Linked DNA regions of Homo sapiens. The protein of the gene in region 1 interacts with the protein of each later gene in a biochemical or structural test. Each region holds a gene or a part of one and is shown in the gene's direction. Other genes may lie near its edges.

The links.
Region 2: the proteins of SMURF2 (region 1) and SCN9A interact in a surface display test, tested with the Homo sapiens proteins (one large-scale study listed by IntAct).
Region 3: the proteins of SMURF2 (region 1) and RNF20 form a complex in vitro, tested with the Homo sapiens proteins (one study listed by BioGRID).
Region 4: of the proteins of SMURF2 (region 1) and RHOA, one has a biochemical effect on the other in vitro, tested with the Homo sapiens proteins (3 studies listed by BioGRID, with this or other methods).
Region 5: of the proteins of SMURF2 (region 1) and USP15, one has a biochemical effect on the other in vitro, tested with the Homo sapiens proteins (one study listed by BioGRID).
Region 6: the proteins of SMURF2 (region 1) and NEDD8 form a complex in vitro, tested with the Homo sapiens proteins (one study listed by BioGRID).
Region 7: of the proteins of SMURF2 (region 1) and ERBB2, one has a biochemical effect on the other in vitro, tested with the Homo sapiens proteins (one study listed by BioGRID).

The regions. Positions count from the first base shown.
Region 1 is NC_000017.11:64,557,808-64,561,307, reverse strand, and holds part of SMURF2 (E3 ubiquitin-protein ligase SMURF2), read left to right. Parts: intron 1-3,500. UniProt on the Homo sapiens protein: E3 ubiquitin-protein ligase which accepts ubiquitin from an E2 ubiquitin-conjugating enzyme in the form of a thioester and then directly transfers the ubiquitin to targeted substrates.
Region 2 is NC_000002.12:166,369,445-166,372,944, reverse strand, and holds part of SCN9A (sodium channel protein type 9 subunit alpha), read left to right. Parts: intron 1-3,500. UniProt on the Homo sapiens protein: Pore-forming subunit of Nav1.7, a voltage-gated sodium (Nav) channel that directly mediates the depolarizing phase of action potentials in excitable membranes.
Region 3 is NC_000009.12:101,536,853-101,540,352, forward strand, and holds part of RNF20 (E3 ubiquitin-protein ligase BRE1A), read left to right. Parts: intron 1-3,350; coding exon 3,351-3,500. UniProt on the Homo sapiens protein: Component of the RNF20/40 E3 ubiquitin-protein ligase complex that mediates monoubiquitination of 'Lys-120' of histone H2B (H2BK120ub1).
Region 4 is NC_000003.12:49,370,477-49,373,976, reverse strand, and holds part of RHOA (transforming protein RhoA isoform 1 precursor), read left to right. Parts: intron 1-3,500. UniProt on the Homo sapiens protein: Small GTPase which cycles between an active GTP-bound and an inactive GDP-bound state.
Region 5 is NC_000012.12:62,266,904-62,270,403, forward strand, and holds part of USP15 (ubiquitin carboxyl-terminal hydrolase 15), read left to right. Parts: intron 1-3,500. UniProt on the Homo sapiens protein: Hydrolase that removes conjugated ubiquitin from target proteins and regulates various pathways such as the TGF-beta receptor signaling, NF-kappa-B and RNF41/NRDP1-PRKN pathways.
Region 6 is NC_000014.9:24,225,868-24,229,367, reverse strand, and holds part of NEDD8 (ubiquitin-like protein NEDD8), read left to right. Parts: intron 1-3,500. UniProt on the Homo sapiens protein: Ubiquitin-like protein which plays an important role in cell cycle control and embryogenesis via its conjugation to a limited number of cellular proteins, such as cullins or p53/TP53.
Region 7 is NC_000017.11:39,710,064-39,713,563, forward strand, and holds part of ERBB2 (receptor tyrosine-protein kinase erbB-2 isoform a precursor), read left to right. Parts: intron 1-22; coding exon 23-138; intron 139-276; coding exon 277-418; intron 419-1,864; coding exon 1,865-1,984; intron 1,985-2,258; coding exon 2,259-2,385; intron 2,386-3,089; coding exon of another isoform or gene 3,090-3,206; intron 3,207-3,500. UniProt on the Homo sapiens protein: Protein tyrosine kinase that is part of several cell surface receptor complexes, but that apparently needs a coreceptor for ligand binding. Essential component of a neuregulin-receptor complex, although neuregulins do not interact with it alone.

The DNA.
Region 1 (3,500 bases):
CTCCCCAGTAGACCATCTGAGTCCCATGAGACTGCAGGCCCTGTGTTTTCTCCATCTCTCTCTTTAAGTACATTATTGCCTCTGCTTTACATTGTCAGGAACAGTTTTGAGATTTAAATGATATATAACCTGAACTGAATACTGGTTCTCTTTGCTTCCATTTGTTATGCCTTTTTTCCTTGTTAAATGAATGTGTATGCATGCATGTGTGTATACACATGTACATATCATGATGGTCCTCAGAATGTTTCAGTACAGAAGGTAGAATGCTTCTGCTACATTTGTAACTCACAGGTCAAGTCAAATTAATTTTCTTTCTTTTTTTTTTTTTTTTTTTTTTTGGAGACAGGGTCTCCCTCTGTCACCCAGGCTGGAGTGTAGTGGCGTGATCTCAGCTCACTGCAACCTCCCCATCCTGGGCTCAAGAGAGCCTCCCACCTCAGCCTCCTGAGTAGCTGGGACTACAGGTACAAGCCACCACACCCGGCTAGTTTTTGTTTTTTTTTTTTTGTAGAGATGGGGTTTTGCCATGTTGCCCAGGCTATTCTCGAACTTCTGAGCTCAAACAATCTGCCTGCCCCAGCCTTCCGAAGTGCTGGGATTACAGGTGTGAGCCACCACACCCAGCCAGTGATTTATTTCTGATATTATATTTACTACAAGAATTCTTTTCTATGTGTGAAAATTCGTTTTATATAAATGGAGAAACACTGTAGCTCTGTATTGAAATGTTCCAAGGATCATTGTGGTAATTCTGCTTTCCCTAATCTTAAATCCAACCAAAATTATGTTTTCAATAATTCCCATTAATTGTTATTTAGCATTACATGTGTGTATTTGTAGCCTTATTTTCATTCTGTCACCTTTTAAACCTACGGATGGATAGTTTCTTTAGTGTGGATTTTTAAAAATAATCCCTTGTACATCATACTTAGGACTTGACAGTTTCTGTGGAATTTGTATTACTTACTCATAACTAGAGTGAATGTTTATTGGGAACACTTCATCATCAACTACTGGTGGCATCTAAGTACTATAATTATATGTATAGATCAAATAAGTAGTTTATTTTATTTATTTAGTTTTTTAGAGACGGGGTCTCACTCTGTCACCCAGGCTCCATGGAGTGCAGTGGTGTGATCATGGCTCACTGCAGCTTCGAACTCCTAGGTACAAGTGATCCTCCTGCCTCAGCCTCCTAAAGAGCTAGGACTATAGGCACATGCTTCCATGCCTAATTAAAAAAAAAAAAATTTGGCCAGGTGCAGTGGCTCACACCTGTAATCCCAGCACTTTGGGAGACTGAGGTGGGCAGATCACGAGGTCAAGAGATTGAGACCATCCTGGCCAACATGATGAAACCCCGTCTCTACTAAAAACTAAAAAAAAAAGATTAGCTGGGTATGGTGGCGCACACCTGTAGTCCCAGCTATTCGGGAGGCTGAGGCAGGGGAATCACTTGAACCCAGGAGGCAAAGGTTGCACTGAGCCGAGATCGTGCTACTGCACTCCAGCCTGGTGACAGAGTGTGACTCCGTCTCAAAAAAAAAAAAATTTTTTTTTTTTTGGTAGAAACAGGATCTTGTGTTGCCCAGGCTGGTCTCAAACTCCTGGCCTCAAGTGATCCTCCAGCCTCCGCCTCCCTAAGTGCTGGAATTACAGGCGCGAGCCACCATGCCTGGCTCGTAGTCAGTTTTTTTTGTTGTTGTTGTTTTTGAGATGGAATCTCACTCTGTCGCCAGGCTGGAGTGCAGTGGCGCAATCTCGGCTCCCTGCAACCTCTGCCTCCTGGGTTCAAGCGATTCTCCAGCCTCAGTCTCCCGGGTAGCTGGACTACAGGCGCATACAACCACGCCTAGCTAATTTTTGTATTTTTAATAGAGACGGGGTTTCACCATGTTGGCCATGCTGGTCTCAATCTCCTGACCTTGTGATCTGCCCGCCTTAGCCTCCCAAAGTGCTGGGATTACAGTCATGAGCCACCGAACCCAGCCCAGTTTTTTGTTTTTTAACCTTACTACTGTCAGGGTTTGAGCAGAATAAATGGAATGTGACAGTGATCTGCTTTTTCTGAACTTTATTCCATAGTAGAATCTCAAAGTAGTTGAGTTCTGCTCTTATTTGTGTTCTAAATACTTGGTAAAACAAAACAAAAATTTGGATTTTCTTTTTAAAAAACACATACACACACCAAAAACACAAGACACATCAGATGAGTGTTATGTTGGGAAGGCTGCTTATGTGGAGACGTTACTTCTTTTTTTAATCTCTAGAGTAGTTTTTCAAATGTTACATAATGGTAGTAATTTAATTTAGACTCCATCACATAGAATTTTGAAACAGTTTCCTTTAACTAGTTTTAATACTATTCTGCATTTGCTCAAAAATATTATTCAATCTGTTTAATCCATAATATCAAAATATATCATTTAAATAACCTTCCCTAGCCAAGGAATGACAAGAATTAAGACTAGAACTACATCTCTTAAGTCCTAGACTAGTGAATTTCCAAAGTGAGTAACAAATTATCTTTTATACTTTGAAAAATTTGAAGGTTTTAATAAATTCAAGGTGGAAGTACTTTTTATTCCAGGTTTTAAAAACATTGATTTACATTGAAGTCAAGAAGTGGTATGGAACATACCCAAAGAATGCACGTTTGCCCTTGAGTCCATACCTACACCAAATGCCTTGCAATCCTTGCCCACTTATATTTTTATCATGGTATGTTTCAGGGTTTATACAGTGAATGATAATGAAATGAATAATGAAATGTCCTTAATACTACAACAAAATATAGCCTTGTCCAAAATGAAGAGTAAATCAATACTATATTATATGTCTGTATAAACTGGTCGTGATAGGAGTAGACCAGGATAATAGAGATGACGTGGACTTTTTTTTTTTTTCTTTGAGACAGGGTCTCTGTCACCCAGCCTGGGGTGCAGTGGTGCAATCTCAGCTCACTGCAGCCTCAACCTCCAGGGCTCAAGCAATCCTCCCACCTCTGCCTCCCAAGTAGCTGGGACTATAGGCACTTGCCATCAACCTGGCTAATTTTTGTATTTTTTGTAGAGATGGGATTTCGCCTTGTTGCCCAGGCTGGTCACAAACTCCTGAGCACAAGCGAACCACCTGTCTTGGCCCCCCAAAGTGCTGGGATTACAGGTGTGAGCCACCGTCCCCAGCCTCACATGGACATTTTGAAATAAAACCATATTCTTCCTTTTGTTTTATGTTTATTATGGATTACAAATTTATTTGGCAATTAAAAGTAACAGACCACTGGACCGTATCATCTCGTGAGTAGCTGAACTGTTGGATAATACTTTTATACTCTTTGATGCTAAAATATAATAAAATTGCCTAAATTTTGCGTGAGATGTTACTTCAATATAATAGAGTTTTTATATGCTATTTGGGTACGGTAGATTTTTCCAATGTGATCTTATATAACTGTAGTTAGTGCTTTTTTGCCTTTTATTAATTTAAATAATTAT
Region 2 (3,500 bases), on another chromosome or scaffold:
CATACTGCTTGTTACAGCATGCAGGTATTTTGTGAATTTGCATACCAAATACTCCAAGGGAACCCAGACTATGTCTTCATTGTTGACTTAGCTTCCAGAATAGTGCCTGGCATCAAGTAGTAGGGGGTTCGTAGATATTTATATAAATAATAAAATACAAAAATATGGATTCTTCCAGAATAAAGCATATTAACCCTGGAAACATGAATTTTGTGATTCTATTTTTTATTTGTCAAGCATTTAGTATTTTTACAATATCATGGTATGATATTGAGGAGGTAAAATTAAAATATCCTGAGATGTATTCTCTCTTTTATCAGTGTAGGTGATAATGTACTTAAAGGTAAGTAATTTGTAATGCATTCTTAGAAAGGCAGTGACCACAAATGTATTAAAATATATTTTAAGAAAAAATTGGATTGCATAAACTAATATGGTTATAAGTGACTCCAAATCTAAAATGATAACCTTGTTAGGTTTAAATCTGTATCATCTAACAGAAATTTGAGGGCCAGTCAATAGTCACTGACTATGAATTTAAAATATTCTTTTAAAATAAACATAGATGCTTATGTGAGCTCAGTTGATAGAAATGTAGTCAGATGAGGCGGAGGCCATAAGTTAGGTTTCCACACGGTCTAAATTGATGTTTGCCCCAGGTACAAAGGGCACATTATCCAAATATTTGAAGCATTCTCTAAGGAAGGTTCAGAGAGGCAATGTGGGCTTATCCATGAAGACCCATCACTGTTATTAGAGTGGAAGTAAGGACTGCAAACTTCATGCTCATAAATGATTGTGTCATTTTCATACTAGAATTTTACCACACACACACTCACACTCACACACACACACACACACACTTTGTATGGTGATTTGCCTCCCCCCTTTATTTTTGCAGACTATGCTTAAAGATATTAAACAAACAACTAGTTTTGCTATTAACATTTGGTTGAAAATTTAGCTTTCAATTAGGTGACAAACTGATTAATGATTTTTTTATGTAGCAAATGGCCAGCCACAGATTTTTGGTAAATAATTTGGTTACCACATTACATCTTGAAGGACTAAATTATTTCACTAATTGTGAGCAGGGATTTTTAAAAATTTGCTCTGAAGAGGACATATTGTGGATGTTGTATTGGAGGGCATCTGTGTACTAATTGAAGATGGTCCTTCATATTACACATCACAAATTAGCTAATTTATTCTTTACAGAAGTATTATGACATCTTCCTTTAGAACTGTGTAGAGTTAGATTACCACTTGAGAGGCAAGGTCATATTAAAATAGATATTATAAAATTGTATAAAAATATTTTATATGAGGATTTATGAGAGCATCCAGAGAATGTGGGTAGAATACTTTTGTGGAATATGAGATAACAATTTTGGTGTCCTGCCATTCTAAAAAATGAAATTTCTTCATTGAAGGTATCACTTACCCTTTCCTCTGCCTTGCTGGAAGGAAATGGCTTTAGGCAAAAGAAAAAGCCATCAGCTCTTGGCAGCTAAAGGTGGAATGAAGTTTGGAGGAATGAAACCCTTCTGGGTGGTGAGGAAAAATGCCAGGCCATGATAAAGTGGGGAAGGAAGAGGGGAATGCCTTGAACAGTGCCAGTAAGCATAATCTGCCACAGACAAGTTTGAATTGACATATGTAGAACTGAATTATTCTATATCTTTTTAGTTCTATAGAGAAAACCGTTCTTTCCACGTCTCTTTTTAAAATAACAACTTACTGTAAGCAAAAAATATGTTGTTGTTGTTTCTTTAACACAGGAGATGAACTATCTTTAGATTTTTTAAAGTGATATAACATGGAGCCAAAAATGCCATATATTACTGTTGAAACCTAACGTTACTTTAACTGTAATTTCCTTGCTATTCATTTTATGATTTCCTCTTGTTATGTCAAGTGTTAGAGAGACTGCTATTACTGATCATAAATTTCTTTAAAATGTCTCCTTGGATTTTTTACAAAGCTTTCTGAATCATTTATCAAAATACAATAAAGCTCTAATTGCACCTAGGATTGTTCACTTGGAAATTTAGAAAGAGTGTGTACATTTACAATTAAGTTAGCATCCTGCCCTGCAATGAATGCCCTTTTTCTTTTTTTTTTTCCTTCTTCTCTCCTACATCTCATCTTCCAAATGTTTGATATGTACGCCAGTAAGGCAAATTTTACTCCACTTTTAGGTCAAACTATTAGTACAAATAATTGGAAAATTGAGCCTCTAAAGAAAGATAAATAAGATTAGAAGCATGCATTAAAATATAAGTATTAAAAACATTCCCATAAGATTTTTAATAAAAATTTTATGTGCTATATGCACACCTAGACTCCCTGTATTATCTGATTTTTAAAGATTCTTTTTTTTTTTTATTTTTTATTTTTTTGAGACGGAGTCTCGCTCTGTCGCCCAGGCTGGAGTGCAGTGGCGCGATCTTGGCTCACTGCAAGCTCCGCGTCCTGGGTTCACACCATTCTCCTGCCTCAGCCTCCGAGTAGCTGGGACTACAGGCGCCTACCACCGTGCCCGGCTAATGTTTTTGTATTTTTAGTAGAGACGGAGTTTCACCATGTTAGCCAGGATGGTCTCAATCTCCTGACCTAGTGATCCGCCCGCCTCGACCTCCCAAAGTGCTGGGATTACAAGCATGAGCCACCGCGCTCAGCCCATTATCTAATGATGATGATGATGATTATTATTATTATTATTATTATTATTATTATTATTATTATTATTTTAACTGGGGGTAATTTCACTGGATGTGGTATCTGTCAACTTTTACTAGTTGCTCCTACACTATATGTTTTTAAATCCAATGTAATTATTTTAAAAATATGTCATCTTCTTGAGAGTCTATACTTTAGAATTTGAAAAAAGAAGTAAATGTAGATATTCAAATCCATGCAGATGAGTAAAACAGGGAAAAATGAGAAAAATGTTTCATGATAATAAAATATTATGTCAGGCACAGCTGGTCACCCCTGCAATCCCATCACTTTGGGAGGCCGAGGCTGGAGGATTGCTTGATCCAGGAGTTCTAGATCAGCCTGGGCAATAAAAGGAAAATCTGTTTCTACAAAAAAATTAAAATTTATATTTCATATATTGATTTAAGCTCTACTAAATGACTATTCTTTCAAGTCTAATAGACAGTGTATCTTTTAGGGCTCAGAGTAAAGATAATTTATTGAGGACATTTTGAATAGGATGAATTAAATGCTTTATTGGTAAGTGATGCCTTTATCTGAGTGATTCCTTCTAGGTAAATATTATGGGACCAATCTTTGTAAATGATCTTTGCATGGAACAAAATATTATAAAGTTGAAGTGATGAATTTGTTTCCCTCTTAACAAAATATGTATTCTTGTTACCCCATTTACAAACTTGGCTCATGGTAATTCAGGTAGGAAAAAGGGAAGTGGCCTACTCAGGGATCAACTGGGAATAAGGTTCTTATAATCCCATGAGATCAGCTGACAGACT
Region 3 (3,500 bases), on another chromosome or scaffold:
TTGGAGACTATAGAAAAGCAAGGATTATAAACAAGAGTCCAGCTAGCAGACTTTTTTCTTTTCTTCTTCTTACTCTCTTTCGCTATAACTGCATCTCTCCAAAGGTGGGGATCTGAGGCATGTATCCACTGATCCCCGCTCCAATTGGTTGAAGGTTGCCATTGAAAGCAGTCCCTCCTGTGCATTTTGAGATTGCTGTTAGGAGCCAGCTGTGATTGCGGGACAGAAAAACTGAGTCTCCAAAGTGTGCTTGAAGTGGGAACAATGGCAGTGTAAATGGAGCTGTCCACCACAGCTGTGCTGAAATCTGGCAGGCTGACAGGACTTAGCACAGAGTTTTTGCTATAGGAGGCCTTTGCAGTAATCTTAATGAGAAATCATGGTGGCTTGGACCACTGTGGAGGTAGCATTGATAAGATCTGCTGATGGATTGGATAACTCACATGAAAGATAGGAGGGAGGATCATCCCAGGATTTTGAAAGTAATGGAATTTTTACTTACTGAGCTAGAGAAGTGTATGAGAGGAGCAGATTTTTGGGAGTCATGGAGGATGAATTGAGTTTGGTTTGGTTTGGGACATATAAGTTTGAGATACTTATTTGACCTCTGAATGGATAGGTAGTTAATAAGCTGGATACTAGAGAGAGGTCTGGGCTAAAGCTGTATATTTGGGAATCGTCATTTTGTAAGTTGTGTTTACATCTATGAGACTACAGACTCCTTTAATGAATAAGCATAAAGAGGTCTGCTGGGGCACTACAATATTTTCATGTCAAGGAATGAGAAAGGACTAATCAAAGATACAAACAAAGAGGGACCAATGAGGTAAGAGGATAGGAAGAGAGAATGGGTTCCCAGAAGCTCAATGAAGAAAGTATTTCAAGAAGGAGCTGATTAGGTGCTGCTGATGTGTTCTCATTCAGGTTTCAGTTGGAACAAGGGGAATAAAGGGAGGACTGAGGTGTTATATTTAATAATAGTTCACTGGAGATACCAAAACACCTTTGTTGGTGAAATAGTGGGGATGGCACCCTGTTTTCAGTGAGCTTAAGAGAATATGAGGGGAGAGGAATTAGGAAAAAGAGAGTAGAGACAATGCTTTATAAAGGAGTATCGCTGTAAAGTAGATGACTATATAATGACTGATCATGGAATTTAAGTTCAGTAAAGAAGGAGGTGAGAGAAGTGAAAGGTATAGGACCAATGGATTGTAGATCCTGGAGAGGTTAAAGAATTTTTGGAGTAAGGAAACTGGAGAGAGTGAGCTGGAAAAATAGTGGTAGTTGTGAAGAATGAGGTGTTTGAAATTGAGCTTATAGAGGACATGTAGGTACAAGTAAGACTAAATGTGGGAGTTGGTGGCTGAAGGAGGTAGAAGACAAGATCATTGGTGAAGAGGAGGTCAGTGACTTGATGATTCAAGTATAGGAAAGGTTATCTGTATGGGTATTGAAATCATTAAGAATGATGACAGGAAAAGTATTGGAGAGTGATAATAAGGTAGGTGCTAAGTCTTTGTGAAATGTGAGGAAACGACGTGGGCATTTACAGATGAATTCAACAGAGCATGGCGGCAGGTGGTATAGGCTAATGGCATGAGCTGCAGAGGTAGGAGGTTTTAGGGAGGAAGGTGGGGTAATGGCCTGGAAGTGGCAATGGAAAATAAGGAGGATATTCATCCCTCTCTGGCTTCAAGGGGTGTGGAAGAGAAACAGCCACCACTAGAGAAGCCTGCAGGGAAACAGTTTCTCATCCAAGTTTCAGTTAGAGCAAGAAGGGAAAGGCAATGTTCAGAGAAGAGTTTGAGGATATAGTTTATTAATAGTGTTAATAAACTGGTACAGTGGGAAAACTGTTGACTACTTTGGCATATTAGGAATGTTTTAATTAAAGTGGAAAAGAGAAAAATGAAACAAAAATTGGTGGTGTAATAAACAATTGTCACTTTAAAATAATGATTTCATTAATTCCTCAGAAAAGTAAGACTATTTTTCCACATGCTGGTTCTTTGCTTGTTATATCCTCCAATCCCACCTCCCACCAACCCCTCCCTGGTTTGTCCTAGGGAAGGAGCTGGAGAGAGAAAAATATTGAGAGGGATGTGAAATTACTAATGGAGTGAGGGTTTTGTAGAGACAGAAGAGAACAGGATCCTGAGCACAAGCTGAGGTTTTAAGAATGTGTGCATAATTGTGTTAATGGGTCAAAGAGATGGGGAATTGTTTTCCATCTGATGGCTTCTATTTTCTCATTAAAATAGGAAGTAAAGCCATCTGTTTTGTATGATGTAAAAGGGGGCAGGGTTTGGTAGAGGTTGATGTTGCCTTGCTGGAGAATGGGAAATAGCTCACTTGATAAAGAAATATTTCTAGACAAATTATAAAATCTGTTTAGGCTAAGAATTCATTTTGTAAAGGCACCGGTTTCGGTGGTTTGATGAACTTCTCTAGAAGTCTCAGCATACTGGGTACAGGAATGGAATAGCCAGATAACTGGATTAATTCAGATTGGGGTTTGTTGACAGAGATAGAATAAAAGGATTAAGGGCAGAGAACCAAGGAGGCTGTTAGGCAGGTGTTTGAAGGAATGTACTATATAGCATATGATTAAGATATGGAAGGTAGCAGAGATAGAAGGAGACCGAAAAGGAGAAAGAAAAGAATTCAACATTCTGGAGATCTTGATGAGGTAAAGGGATTGGTATATTGGGTTAAGGGCATGAGATACCTGGAAAGACGTGGTGTTTTTCAGGGAATGGGAAGTTGGAATATAAGATTTCAGATGTGGTACAGTTCCAGATAATGACAAAAGTCTGAGATGTGTCTTTTGAAGTGCATGGCTGAAGCACAGTGGAGGAGATAATGTTTGGAGTGAAGGAACTGGAAAAACTGACAGCCTAGATGCTAGAGGATTAGATGGTTTGTCCACATGTATGGTGAAGTCACCAGATATATTGGCAGGAACTGGGATAGACAGGGACCCAGGTGCTGAAGTCTTTAATGAAGGAAGGATGGTGCTTACGAGATAGAAGACAGTGTTGATTGGAGTCGAGGGTGATCTAGCTGGATGGTGGCCTTAAAGCAGCATTACTTTGTAGATGTTTATGTGACTAGAACAGCGAGATGGGTTGAGGTTCTGGTGTATTTGTGTGTATTATTCTTTCCTCACACCATCATATACCTGTTGTTTATCTCTTCTGCTTCTACTTCTTAATTACTTGTAAGATTTTTTAAAAGTCAATAGCTTTATTCATAGAAAATAACTAATGAATAATTGTGACCTTGTTGAGTTTAACGGCTCATTTTTCTTATTTCTTTGTGGAGACTAATACGATTGGTTTACTGGGCAGGAGGAACTAGACATTAGAACACTGCAAACCAAAAATCGCAAGCTGGCAGAAATGTTGGATCAGCGGCAGGCCATTGAAGATGAACTTCGTGAGCACATTGAAAAACTGGAACGACGACAGGCCACTGATGATGCCTCACTATTGATTGTC
Region 4 (3,500 bases), on another chromosome or scaffold:
GTCCTAAAAGCCCTCTGGCAAGACTGGAACAAAGCTCTTGTGAAATTGGAGGGTTTTTTTGGGTTTTAATTTTGGTTTTGGTTTGTTTTTGTTTTTTTTTTTAATCTTCTGCTTCCTTTTGTTGTCTAAGTAATGCTTTGCTTGGCCTCTCATACTTTTTTTTTTTTCTCTTAAATAAAGAGACAGGGATTGTACTTTGTCTCCCAGGCCTGCAGTGCTGTGACATGATCATGCAGCCTTGAACTCTTGGGCTCAAGTGATCCTTCCACCTCAGCCTCCCAAATAGCTGGCACTGTAGGTATGTGCCACCACACCTGGGTAATTTATGTTTTTAGAGATGAGGTCTTGTGTTGGTCCAGCTGGTTTCAAACAACTGGGCTCAAGTTCTTCCATCTCAGCCCCAAGTGGCTGGGCTTACAGGCGCAAGCCAGCGTGCCCAGCTCTCCTATACATCTTTTGAAGTGGGTCAGCTGAAAGGAAAAAACCCCTAAAACTAGAATGAGGTGCTCTTCTCCAACATTCTCATTTTTCTTGAGCATTCAGTTATATGTCTCATATGCTGCTAACACTTGATATATTAGCTTCCATTCATCCCCTTTCTCCTTTCTTACTTTGTTTTTGTTTGTTTGTCTAGAGACAGAGTCTCCCTCTATCACCCAGGTTGGAGTGCAATGGCATGATCTTGGTTTACAACAACCTCCGCCTCCTGAGTTCAAGCAATTCTCCTATCTCAGCCTCCCGAGGAGCTGGGATTACAGGTGCCTGCCACCAAGCCCAGCTAATCTTTGTATTTTTAGTAGAGACGAGGTTTCGCCATGTTGGCCAGGCTGGTCTCGAACTTTTGACGTCAGGTGATCCGCCCGCCTTGGCCTCCCAAAGTGCTGGGATTACATGCATGAGCCACCGTGCCTGGCCACTTCTACTTGTCCACATTACTTATTTCTTTCTGTCCTAGGGCCACCTAGCCTCCTTTTGTGGCACTGTGTGAGGAATGTGGGTTAGATCAGCTGCTCAGAACTCCAGGGTCCCTCATTGTAGGGCTTCCTGATAGTTGTTTGACCATCAGTAAGCTCCTGACCTTTGAGCCTTCCTCATTTGTAAAACGGTTTTTATAGGTGACATCAAGGTTCTGTGAAGTAACGGAAAATGTTTGGCAGCACCAAAGCGCTTTCTAAGAGATGAATACTGCCATGTTCAAAACCCTCTTTCATAGTTTGTAGTCCTTTTTTTTTTTTTTTTTTTTGAGACAGAGTCTCGCTCTGTCGCCCAGGCTGGAGTGCAGTGGCGTGATCTCTGCTAACTGCAACCTCTGCCTCCTGGGTTCACGCCATTCTCCTGCCTCATCCTCCGGAGTAGCCGGGACTACAGGCGCCCGCCACCACGCCTGGCTAGTTTTTTGTATTTTTAGTAGAGACAGGGTTTCACCGTGTTAGCCAGGATGGTCTGGATCTCCTGACCTCGTGATCTGCCTGCCTCCCAAAGTGCTGGGATTACAGGCGTGAGCCACTGCGCCCGTCCTATAGTTTGTGCTCTTTTTTATTCAAATACAGAGTGAGCCACGATGATTGCTCTTATGCTAATAGGAACTCTAAGATACTTTCTGGCCCAAGTATAGATGGAAAAAATACAACAAATACCAGCCTAACAGAATTTTGGGATGTACCCTGAAGGTGGCAAACCAATACAGAGGGTGTTAATTCAGCCTCAGCCAAGCATGGATGCTTGGACATAGGTGTTTTTGTGGTCCTGATAGGAAAACTGGTTTTATATGGACACAGGGCCCAGTTGTGACAAACTAGGTAGAAATGTGATGACATCTTCAGGATTGGTGTCAAGTTATAGCCCTCTTACCTAACTTAGATTGATGCACCATACATAGAAAGATCCATTGGCTTGGGGAAGCAATGTCAGGTTGGCATTTTCATAGCTTATTTCTCAAAAGCCTAGTAGTGAATGTATATTACTGGTTGTATCCTAACATTTTCTCCAGAGAGTGGCTGTTAATTGCTGCATGTCTGTAAGCATGAACTGGAAGGGTCTTTTCCATCTGTGGCAGTATGTATGTTTTGGAAGCAGCTCTTTGGTTCTCTTGGAAACATTATTTCTGCCTGGGCATCTTGGAACAACCAGAATCTTGCCCATAAGAAATTTAGAGACCTTGACTTAAAACCTTGAGGCATGGTCTGTGAGTATTTTTCTTGTGCTGCAAACCTTGGACATCACTGACCCTCGCAAGATAGGGGGAGGTTCTCACTTGAGGAGAGTCCCCTGGAATAAAAGTGTTTGATTGAAGAGCATATTACAGGCTACCTGCCTGCCTCAGAGCAACTCAAGAGTCCCCAAGATGGGAGAGGGTACTGTGTAGGAATATTCATTTAACAGTATGCAATAGTATAAGGCCAGACGTCGTAGCTCACACCTGTAATCCAGCACTTTGGGAGGCTGAGGCAGGAGGATCACCAGAGGTCAGGAGTTTGAGACCAGCCTGCCCAACATGGCAAAACCCAATCTCTACTAAAAATACAAAAAATTAGCTGGGCGTGGTGGCAGGCACTTGTAATCCCAGCTACTTGGGAGGCTGAGGCAGGAGAATCACTTGAACCTGGGAGGCAGAGGTTGCAGTGAACTGAGACTGCGCCACTGCACTCAAGCCTGGGCGACAAGGGCGAAACTCTGTCTCAAAAAAAAAAAAAAACAGTAGGCAATAGTACAGCCTAGGGAACCATACAAGATTGTAGGTGATCATGGTACCAAGAGTAGGCCTGCTCACAATGAAAAGGCCCCTTTTGATATGAGACAGACTCAACATCTTGGAAGCATTTTATCAAGCGCCAATAGAGGCTGGATATATGACTAAACACCGTGGGGTGGAGGGGGCCGGGAGAGTGGGATTTGCCAGGGAGTAAATGAGCTCCATTATTGTGAGGGCAGACAGATTGTGATAATTGGGCATCAGTATATCTTAGTTACACATGCCAGAATGATGGTTTGCATGACAGAAGTACAGTGGGCCTTGTGGAGGTTATTTGTGATGCATCCTGGGGCAAAAGTTCGGGGGTGGAAGAGCCATCAATTTTAAGGAAGAAATCATTTAGAAACTGAAATTTGGGCTGTGAAGGTGCTAAGAGAAGAAAGATGTGTTCCAAGTATTGGAGGGAGACCTCTTGGGCCTCAAAGGGCCTCTGTACAGAGGATGTTTAACATGGAGTCTGGTGATAAGAATGGGGTAGCAGAGCTGGGTGCAGTGCTGGGCAGTGTTGAATGGGACTTGTATTCAGAGCCCAGGCATCAGTTTACCCTTCTACCACAGGAGGGTGAGGATGTACCCGGATGTGAAAGGAGTACTCTCTCACCTTACGTGATGCATTATTTCAGACATTTCTTGAGTAGTAAAGGCACAGCCAAAAGGGCTTTCCTGTCATCTCAGGCCTTGCCTAACAGCCAGCATGGTGTCTTTTCCTACCTACCAACTCAAAATACAGATTTGTTTCCATGGTTTC
Region 5 (3,500 bases), on another chromosome or scaffold:
ATCTTTGATGATTTCAGAGCTGGTTTAAATACCTGGTTTATAAAGATTTAAAGTACTAGATACTATCTAATACTAAGAATAGATCCTTAGTATTAAAAATGGTTTTATGCTGTCACTACTCGAATGTAATTCAAACAATATTTCATTAAACCATGGGAATTTCTCTTTTTTCTTAGTCCTTGTATAGAATTTTTCAACAATTACTAAATACTTTTTTTCTTCCCTGAGTAATGTCAGTCTAGCTTGTTTCTTTTAATTTCCTCACTTACCACTGTAATTCACATTCTGTGTCTCATATTCATTCCTCTGAAGCCACTTCGCCAGACTCGTTCTCCCATTTATCCTTTAAACAGGGGAATGTAGATCCTTTAGATTTTATCACCCAGTTTACACAAAAGTCACTATTCAAGAAATCTAGCATAAGCCTAGTAAGTAGCCTCAGTTTTGGATACAGATTAAAATTATTTGAGGGAAGGGTCAAAAATGGCTCCTTACAAAGAAGGAAATAAGTTCCAATTATAATATAAAACAGAAAACCCCTGTAGGATTAACCTGCATTTGATTATGTCTAGACTGCCTTTACTACTTCCATCACTAAGATTCTACATGGTTTCCTTATAGCTCTCCAAAAAGAAAAGAGTAATGATGCCTTTTTTTCCTCCAAGGAATGGAGAACTAAGAATGCTAACTGTCCCTTCCATTCTCCCTTTAGTTTTGAGAAGACCCAGATATTAGCGTGGTAATTCCCCACCATAAGAGAAAATCATTTAGCAGAAGTACCAGTAGCAAGGACTTCTTTGTGAAGGAAGTCAAAGATCTCACAAAGAAGTTCAAGGGTGGCTCTGAGGCCAGGGTATTCTAAGTTTAGAGCCAGTTAAATCAAGACCTGAGAACATTTAGAGACAAAGTTACTTAACTGAAAAGAGCATCAAGTTCCTTGTTCCAGGTAGAAAACACCTGGTAATCTGGATTGATTTCTGTTATTTACCCATATGTTTTTACAGCTTAACAAAGTTTAACAGGTTAGTCAAGAGATTTGCCTTTGATAAAAAGATGGGAAATTTATATTCATACATTTGAATGGATTTCAAGCTGAAGAACTTTTTAATTCTCAGGAGAGATGTAGCTAAGTATTTATATGTACCACATAGTTGTGGCTATGGTTTACAATAACTTATTACTCATTTACTATGTTAAGAGCATTTTAAAAGTTCTCTAGATACAGGTTCCATATATAATGTAATATATTTATTCCAAATATATTACATATATGAAATACATGGTAGTATTCTCATTTTACCAGTACAGAAACTGGGATAGTTAAATGTATATGGTCATAACACTTAGTCAGTGGTAGAGCAGGAGGTCTAACTTAAAGCTTGCATTTTAAATTCTAAGTGTACTGCCTGCCTATGTGTGATAGAGCCATACCCAGATTATGGAAGCAACTTTTTGAAAGACAAATACTTGAAAGTATTAAAATCAAGAAATGACAGCTTTGTAATACTTGTTAAACACATTTTCATTTGTTATTAATATCAAGAGCCTCTAGAATTTTGTGAGTCTTCTTGTTTTAGCCTTGTAGTCTCAGCAGTCTCATTTCTAATTAACATATCTCTGTTTTGATACAGATAGTGTCTCCCATTTCCTGCAAATTATTTGCTTTTTCCTGCTTTTGGGGCCTTTATGCCCCATTTCTGTTGTTTCAGATACTTCTTAAAAATTACTGACTTTCATTTCAAAACCTAGTTCAAAGTCAGTCTCTAAAACCACCTCTAATCTCATCCAAATTTGTGGCCCCTCCATTCTTTGCTTTTAAAATATATATGTATATATAAAACAGCTTTATTGTGATGCTATTCACATACCTTACAATTTGCCCACTTAAAGTGGACAGTTCACTGGGTTTTAGTATACTCGAAAGAGTTGTGCAGCCATGACCATAATCAATTTTGGAATCCAAAAAGGAACCTCATACCCATTAATAGTCACCTCCCATTTCTCTCCCAAACTCCTCTGTTCTAGGCAGCTACTAATCTATTTTCTGTCTTTATATATTTGCCTATTCTGGATATTTTATATAAATGGAATCGTATAGTATGTGCGATTTTTGCATCTTGCTTCTTTTACTTAGCATACATGTTTTCTAGGTTCATGCATGTTATAGCATATATCAATGTTTATTTTTACTGCTGAATGATACAGTCATGAGTCACTTAATGACAAGGATAACTTCTGAGAAATGTATGGTTAGGCAATTTTGTCGTTGTGTGAACATCTTAAGGGGGTACTTACACAAATCTAGATGGGATTGCCTACTACATACCTAGGATGTATTGCCTATTGCTCCTAGGCAAAAAAAACCTGTACAACATGTTACTGTAGTGCATACTGTAGTCAATTCTAATACAATGGTAAGTATATATATATGTGTGTGTGTATAAATATATATATGTGTGTGTGTGTATATATATATATCTAAACATAGAAAAGGTAGAGTAAAAATACAATATTATGATCTTTTTTGTTTTTAGAGACAGGGTCTGGCTCTGTCACCCAGACTGAAATGCAGTAGCCCAATATTGGCTCACATTGCCCTTGATCTCCTGGGCTCAAGCAATTCCACTGCCTCATCCTCCCAATTAGCTAGGACTACAGGCAAGCACCACTGTGTCTATTTTTTATTTTTATTTTTTTGTAGAAATGAGGATCTTGCTGTGTTGCCCAGGCTGGTCTTGAACTCCTGGCCTCAAGCACTCCTCCCACCTTAGTCTTCCAAAGTGTTGGGATTATAGGCATGAGCCACTGTGTCTAGCCAGACATAATGTGTCTGTTATTGACCTAAATGTTGTTATGTGGTATGTGACCATATTCCATTGTATAGATATAACACATTTGATATATCCATTTATCAATTGATAGACATTTGAATTTCCAATTTTTGCCTATTTTGAATAATCCTGCTATGAACATCCATTACAAGTTTTCATTTCTCGTGTATATACCTGTAAGTGGAATTGCTAGGTCCCTGTTTAACTTTTTAAGGAACTGCTAGACTGTTTTTCTAAGTGGCCGTAATTTTACATTGCCACCAGCAGTGTATGAGGGTTCCAGTTTTTTCACCTCGTCAGCACTTATGTTCTTTTTTTTAATATATAGCCATCTTAGTGGATATGAAGTAGTATCTCATTGTAGTTTTGATTTGCATTTTCTTGATAGGTAATGATGTTGAGTATCTTTTCACCTGCTTATTGGCCATTTGTATGTCTTTTGGATGTCTGTCCAGATTCTTTGCCCATTTAAAAAATTTGGTTATTTTGTCTTTTTATTATTGCATTGTAAAAGTTCTCTAGATACAGGTTCCTTATTAAATAGTTAATTTACAAATTTTTCTCCCATTCTGTGGATTTTCTTTTTACTTTCTTGGTAGTGTCCACTGAAACATGGAAGTTTTTATTTTATTGAAATTCAATTTGCCTGTTTTTTCCTTTGTCACTTTT
Region 6 (3,500 bases), on another chromosome or scaffold:
CACACCTGTAGTCCCAGCCACTTGACAGGGTGAGGCAGGAGAATTGCTTGAACCTGGGAGGCAGAGGTTGCAGTGAGCCAAGATCGTGCCATTGCACTCCAGCCTGGGCAACAGAGTGAGACTGTCTCAAAAAATAAATAAATAAAATAACTGTTTGAACAAAAAAATCAATGCTGTGTGTGGAAACTTGAAAATACAGTGTCCTATCACCTGTGGTCTTGCTAAAATGCTGATTATGATTCTGTGGGTCTAAGGTGGGGCACAGGTTTCTGCATTTCTCACAAACTCCCAGGTGATATTGAATGTCTGAGAGCTACACTTTGAATAGCAAGATTCTAGATTTTTTCTGTTTCTTTGAATCCATATTTATGTGGTACTTCTCTAAAATTGCCAGTCTTCTTTCCTGCAACACCCTTCTGCCTTCAAACAGGCCTCTGTGCCCCATCTCTCTCTATCTCCCCCTCTCGCCCCATCCCCTCTTGTTTGTTGCATTTCTTAATTAAATACATAGGAAAGTAGTTACACATGAGATAGCTGTTAATCTGATCTGAAGAAAATATTAATTTAAAAAAGAAAAAAAAGAGCTGTTAATTACCATATAAGTGACATTTTTTATTACAGTTCCTTTTTTTTTTTTTTTTTTTTTTTGAGACAGGTTCTCACTCTGTCGCCCAGGCTTAGGGTGCAGTGGTGCCATCACAGCTTACTGCAGCCTCGACCTCTCAGGCCCAAGCAATTCTCCCATCTGAGCCTCCTGAGTAGCTGGGACTACAGGCGTGTGCTACCACCATACCCAGCCAATTGTTTTATTTTTTTGTAGAGATGCGGTCTCATCGTGTTGCCCACGCTAGTCTAAAACTTCTGGGGTCAAGTGATCTTCCCACCTCATCTTCCTAAAGTGCTGGGATTACAGCCGTGAGCTACCATATCTGACCCCTTTTTGAATTATTATTATTTTTGTTTTGTTTTGCTTTTGAGATGGAGTCTCACTCTGTCGCCCAGGCTGGAGTACAGTGGCACGATCTTGGCTCATTGCAACCTCCGCCTCTTGGGTTCAAGCGATGCTCCTGCCTCAGCCTCCCAAGTAGCTGGGACTACAAGTGCCCACCACCATACCCGGCTAACTTTTGTATTTTAGTAGAGACGGGGTTTCGCCATGTTTGCCAGGCTGGTCTTGAACGCCTGACCTGAGGTGATCCACCCACCTCAGCCTCCCAAAGTGCTGGGATTACAGGCATGAGCCACCGCGCCTGGCCTCATTTTGTTTTTGTTTTGAGACATTCTTACTCTGTCACCCAGGCTGGAGTGCAGTGGTATGATCTCGGCTCACTGCAACCTCCACCTCCCAGGCTCAAGGGATCCTCCCAACTCAGCCTCCCAAGTAGCTGGGACTACAGGTACATGCCACCACACCTGGCTGATTTTCTGTATTTTTAGTAGAGGTGGGGTTTCACCATGTTGCCCAGGCTGGTCTTGAACTCCTGAGCTCAAGTGATCCACCTGCCTTGGCCTCCCGAAGTGCTGGGATTACAGGCGTGAGCCACCATGCCCAGCCGAATGATTCATTTTCAACTGCTGTCTCTGTGTAGCTGACTTCTTCCATATTTTTCTATAAGATTTTACAATTAAATTCTTCCTGATTTAAATCTTGTTACCTTGTCTCTATGGTTCTAAAATTAAATGCATCATCTTCTGTCATAAGCCATATCCCAATACCCATCTCGTGTATTAATCCCATCAATCATTCAGGTGTCTGGAATACAATTCTTTAGAGTCATTTAAAATTACGTGGTCCTTTTATAAGATCTAATTTTTCACTTAAAAGCTCTTTCTGTTTGATTTTTGTTTCCATCTCCATTACCCTCATTCTGGTCTCGGGTCTTACTCATTTATATGTTTATGTCTCTGTAATACATCCAACCAGGTTTTCCTACCGTCATATCCCCTCTAAAGTGTAGTCTAAACCAAGACATGACGTACAAAACCATAATGTGCAGGTCTTCCTTTAGCTTCTTTTTCATTATATTACTCCCTAACCCCAGATCCTTCATTGATTTCCTCATTGCAGATTACTTTGGCAACTGTCTTTACTGTGTGAATCAGTTTTCTCATTCATGTTTTTTAACATACAGTAAAATGCACAGTTCTTAAGGGTTTAGTTCAGTGAGTTTTTGACAATAGCATACGTTCATGTAATTACAAAATCTAAACATTTGTATTCCTACCCCCTCAAGAGTTTCATAGGTTAGTTTTGCTTGTTTTAGAACTTTATATAAATGGAATTATTGAATGTACAATTTTTGTATCTGGCTTCTTTCATTCTGCATAATGTCTACTGTAATCTGTGGTTTATTCCTTCTTATTACTGAATAGTATTCCATTGGATGAATTATATCATAATTTGTTTATCCATTCTCCTGTTGATGGGTGTTTGAGTTATCTCCAGTTTCTGGCTATTATGAAAAAGTCTTCTATGAACATTGTTATACGAGTGTTTTTGTAAACATATGTTTTTATTTCCTTTGGATAAATACCTAAGAATGAAATTACTAGGTCATGTGGTAGATATATGTAACTTTAAAAAGAAACTAAGGGTTTGTACCATTTTATATTCCCACCTGCAGTGTATGAGCATTCCAGTTGCTCTGTACCCTTACTAGACGGTACCCTTGTAGCACCATAAAAATGCTGATGTCAGTCATTTTTATTTTGGCTATTATAGTGTTATAATGTTATATAAATTAAAACACTATATCTAGTGTTATATAATGTTATCTCATTCAAGGCTTAAATTGATTAACATTGATTTTCATTCACCATAGCACTTAGTCATTGCCCCTTGTGTTTGGACAATATAGTACTTCCTTTTGTTTTGTTTTGTTTTGATTTGTTTTTAATTTTTAATTTTTTTTTTTTTTTTTTGAGATGGAGTCTCCCTCTGTCACCCAGGCTGGAGTGCGGTGGCACGATCTCGGCTCACTGCAACCTCCACCTTCGTTCAAGCGTCCACCATGCCTAGCTAATTTTTTTGTATTTTTGGTAGAGACAGGGTTTTGCCATGTTGGCCATGCTGGTCTCGAACTCCTGACCTCAAGTGATCCACCTGCCTCAGCCTCCCAAACTGCTGGGATTACAAGCGTGAGCCACTGTGCCCAGCCAGAACTTCCTTGTATACAGCCTTATTCTATTAATTTTATGTCTAATTGTTTCTTGGTTGTACATCTTCGCTTGATAAAGATTGTTGGCAGGGCTGGATCACATTTCTTTTGTATTTCCTCCAGTGCCTAGGGCAGTATGTTAGGTTTAGGTTCATCTTTTTTTTTTTTTTGGAGATGGAGTCTCACTCTGTCACCCAGGCTGGAGTGCAGTGGCGTGATCCCTGCTCACTGCAACCTCCACCTCCTGGGTTCAAGCATTTCTCCTCCTCAGCCTCCTGCATAGCTGGGATACAGGTGCGTGCCACCACACCCAGCTAATTTTTTTGTATTTTTAGTAGAGAC
Region 7 (3,500 bases), about 25 Mb from region 1:
CATCCTGCCCTTTGCCCAACAGTGACGCGCACTGTCTGTGCCGGTGGCTGTGCCCGCTGCAAGGGGCCACTGCCCACTGACTGCTGCCATGAGCAGTGTGCTGCCGGCTGCACGGGCCCCAAGCACTCTGACTGCCTGGTATGTGCCTCTGCTTTGTGCCCAATGTGCTCTACCCCCCAGGATGCAAGGGGTGGGCACCCTGCCTGGTACTGCCCTATTGCCCCTGGCACACCAGGGCAAAACAGCACAGTGAAAGCCAGCCACCTGTCCCCCCAGGCCTGCCTCCACTTCAACCACAGTGGCATCTGTGAGCTGCACTGCCCAGCCCTGGTCACCTACAACACAGACACGTTTGAGTCCATGCCCAATCCCGAGGGCCGGTATACATTCGGCGCCAGCTGTGTGACTGCCTGTCCCTGTGAGTGCCAGGGAGAAACACAGTTTTCTCATTTTGGTGGGGAGGTTTGTTTCTGTAAATGGGAGCATATGGGGAGCACTGTCTGCATCTTGCTTTGAGAGCTGGTCATGACAGTTCCTGCCGAGCTGCCTTGTTCTTTCAACAGCTGTGGAGCAGGTGGCAGTAAGGAGAGGCAGCTAAGAGCCCAGACTTGGGAGCCAGACTGCCTGGGTTTGAAACCCAGCTCTATCAATTAGTAGGCACGTGACCCTCTTGCTGTGCCTCAGTTTCCTCATCAGTAAAATGGGGGCAAGAATAGTCCCAACTGCATAAGATGGTTATAACATTTGAAAGAGTTAATATTTGTAAAGCTCTTAGAACGGTGCCTGGTATGTACTAAGTGCTCCTAAATGTTAGCTTTTATTCTATAGCCTGGTGAGGTCAGTTTTACCTTTCGTTTTGTTTTTGAGACCGAATTTAGTTAGCTCTATCGCAGTGGCGCGATCTCGGCTCACTGCAACCTCCGCCTCCCAGGTTCGTGCTATTCTCGTGTCTCAGCCTCCTGAGTAGCTGGGATTACAGGCGCCCACCACCATGCCTCGCTAAATTTTGTATTTTTAGTAGAGACAGGGTTTCACCACGTTGGCCAGACTGGTCTCGAACTCCTGACTTCAGGCGATCCACCTGCCTCGGCCTCTGAAAGTGCTGGGATTACAGGCGTGAGCCACTGCACCCGGACTTTTTTTTTTTTGGCAGAGTCTCGCTCCATTGCCCAGGCTGGAGTGCAGTGGTGCAATTTTGGCTCACTGCAACCTCTGCCTTCCGCATTCAAGCAATTCTTGTGCCTCAGACTCTTGAGTAGGTGGAACTACAGGCATGCACCACCATGGCTGGGTAATTTTTGTATTTTTAGTAGAGACGGAGTTTCACTATGTTGGCCAAGCTGGTCTCGAACTCCTGACCTCAAGTGATCCACCCGCCTTGGTCTCCCAAAGTGCTGGGATTACAGGCATGAGCCATCGTGCCTGGCCTAGCTCAGTTTTATTTAACAGATCACCTATTTACTGATGGGCGTTTATGGACTGGGCTCAGACCTGGGGAACCTCTTTCCTCCTCTCACAGGAACAGGAGTGGGCCTTCAGATCCTGGCTGACTGTGTTAGGGAGAGGACAAAATGTAGAGCCAGACCATTTGGGTTCAAATCCTCGCTCCTCCACTCACTAGCACAATGACCTTGAATAATTTACAGAACTCTCTGCTTTGGTCTCCCTTTTTGCAAAATGGGAATCTCACAGTGCTGATCCCGTCTGGTTGTTGTGAGGGGTAAATGGATGTCAGGTGCTGATGCGTGGTAGGGCATTTAAGTATTGGTTGATATTATTCTTCTTGTGCCTGGGCACGGTAATGCTGCTCATGGTGGTGCACGAAGGGCCAGGGTATGTGGCTACATGTTCCTGATCTCCTTAGACAACTACCTTTCTACGGACGTGGGATCCTGCACCCTCGTCTGCCCCCTGCACAACCAAGAGGTGACAGCAGAGGATGGAACACAGCGGTGTGAGAAGTGCAGCAAGCCCTGTGCCCGAGGTACCCACTCACTGCCCCCGAGGCCAGCTGCAGTTCCTGTCCCTCTGCGCATGCAGCCTGGCCCAGCCCACCCTGTCCTATCCTTCCTCAGACCCTCTTGGGACCTAGTCTCTGCCTTCTACTCTCTACCCCTGGCCCCCCTCAGCCCTACAAGTGTCCCTATATCCCCTGTCAGTGTGGGGAGGGGCCCGGACCCTGATGCTCATGTGGCTGTTGACCTGTCCCGGTATGAAGGCTGAGACGGCCCCTTCCCCACCCACCCCCACCTCCTCAGTGTGCTATGGTCTGGGCATGGAGCACTTGCGAGAGGTGAGGGCAGTTACCAGTGCCAATATCCAGGAGTTTGCTGGCTGCAAGAAGATCTTTGGGAGCCTGGCATTTCTGCCGGAGAGCTTTGATGGGTAAGAGTGGGCACGATGACCTGAGACAGTGTCAGGGCAGACAGAGTCCTGAGGATCCAGATGTGGCAGCATCTCTTGGGGATGGCAGGAGACAGAAGTGGGGGGATCAAGAATGCAAAGAAAGCAGATGGGAGACCAGAGGAGCAGGGCCTTTGGTGGGTGGGGGTGATTATTTTTGTAAATGACATGCTATCCGTGAACAAGGACTTGTATGGAGGTCAGACCATCTAGATAAAGTAAAATTCCCTTTGAGTTCATAGCAGCTTTATTCAAAATATCCCCAAATTGGAAATAACTCAAATGTGCATCACTAGGTGAAGGAATAAACAAGTGGCAGTGTATCCATTTGGTGAAGTTCTACTTAGCAACCAAAGGAAATGAACTACCGATACAACATAAATGAATCTCAGAAACATTACATTGAGCAAAAGAAGCCAGAGACAAGATTCCATACTGTCTGATCCCCTTTATGTGAGGCTCTGAACCGAAAAAACCACTCTGTGGTGGGAGAGATCAGAACGGTGGTTGCCCCAGGGTGGGGGGCTTCAAAAGGGAGGCACACAAGGACATTTCTGGGGTAATAGAAATGCTCTGTATAGTGATTGGGGTAGTGGATACATGAGCGAATCCATTTGTCAAAACTCATCAAACTGTGTGATAAGAGTCTGTGCATTTTATTTATTTCATTTTATTTTTTGAGATAGAGTCTCACTCTGTCAGCAGGCTGGAGTGCAGTGGTACGATCTTGGCTCACTGCAACCTCTGCCTCCTGGATTCAAGCAATTCTCCTGCCTCAGTCTCCTGAGTAGCTGGGACTACAGGTGTGTGCCACCATGCCCAGCTAATTTTTGTATTTTTAATAGAGATGGGGTTTCACCATGTTGGCAAGGATGGTCTCGATCTCTTGACGTCGTGATCCGCCCACCTCAGCCTCCCAAAGTGCTGGGATTACAGGCATGAGCCACCACACCCGGTGCATTTTATTGTATATAAGTTATACTTCAATAAGAAATGAATTGGGGCCAGGCACGGTGGCTCACGCCTGTAATCCCAGCACTTTGGGAGGCCGAGGCAGGCAGATCACTTGAGGTCAGGAGTTCAAGACCAGCCTGGCC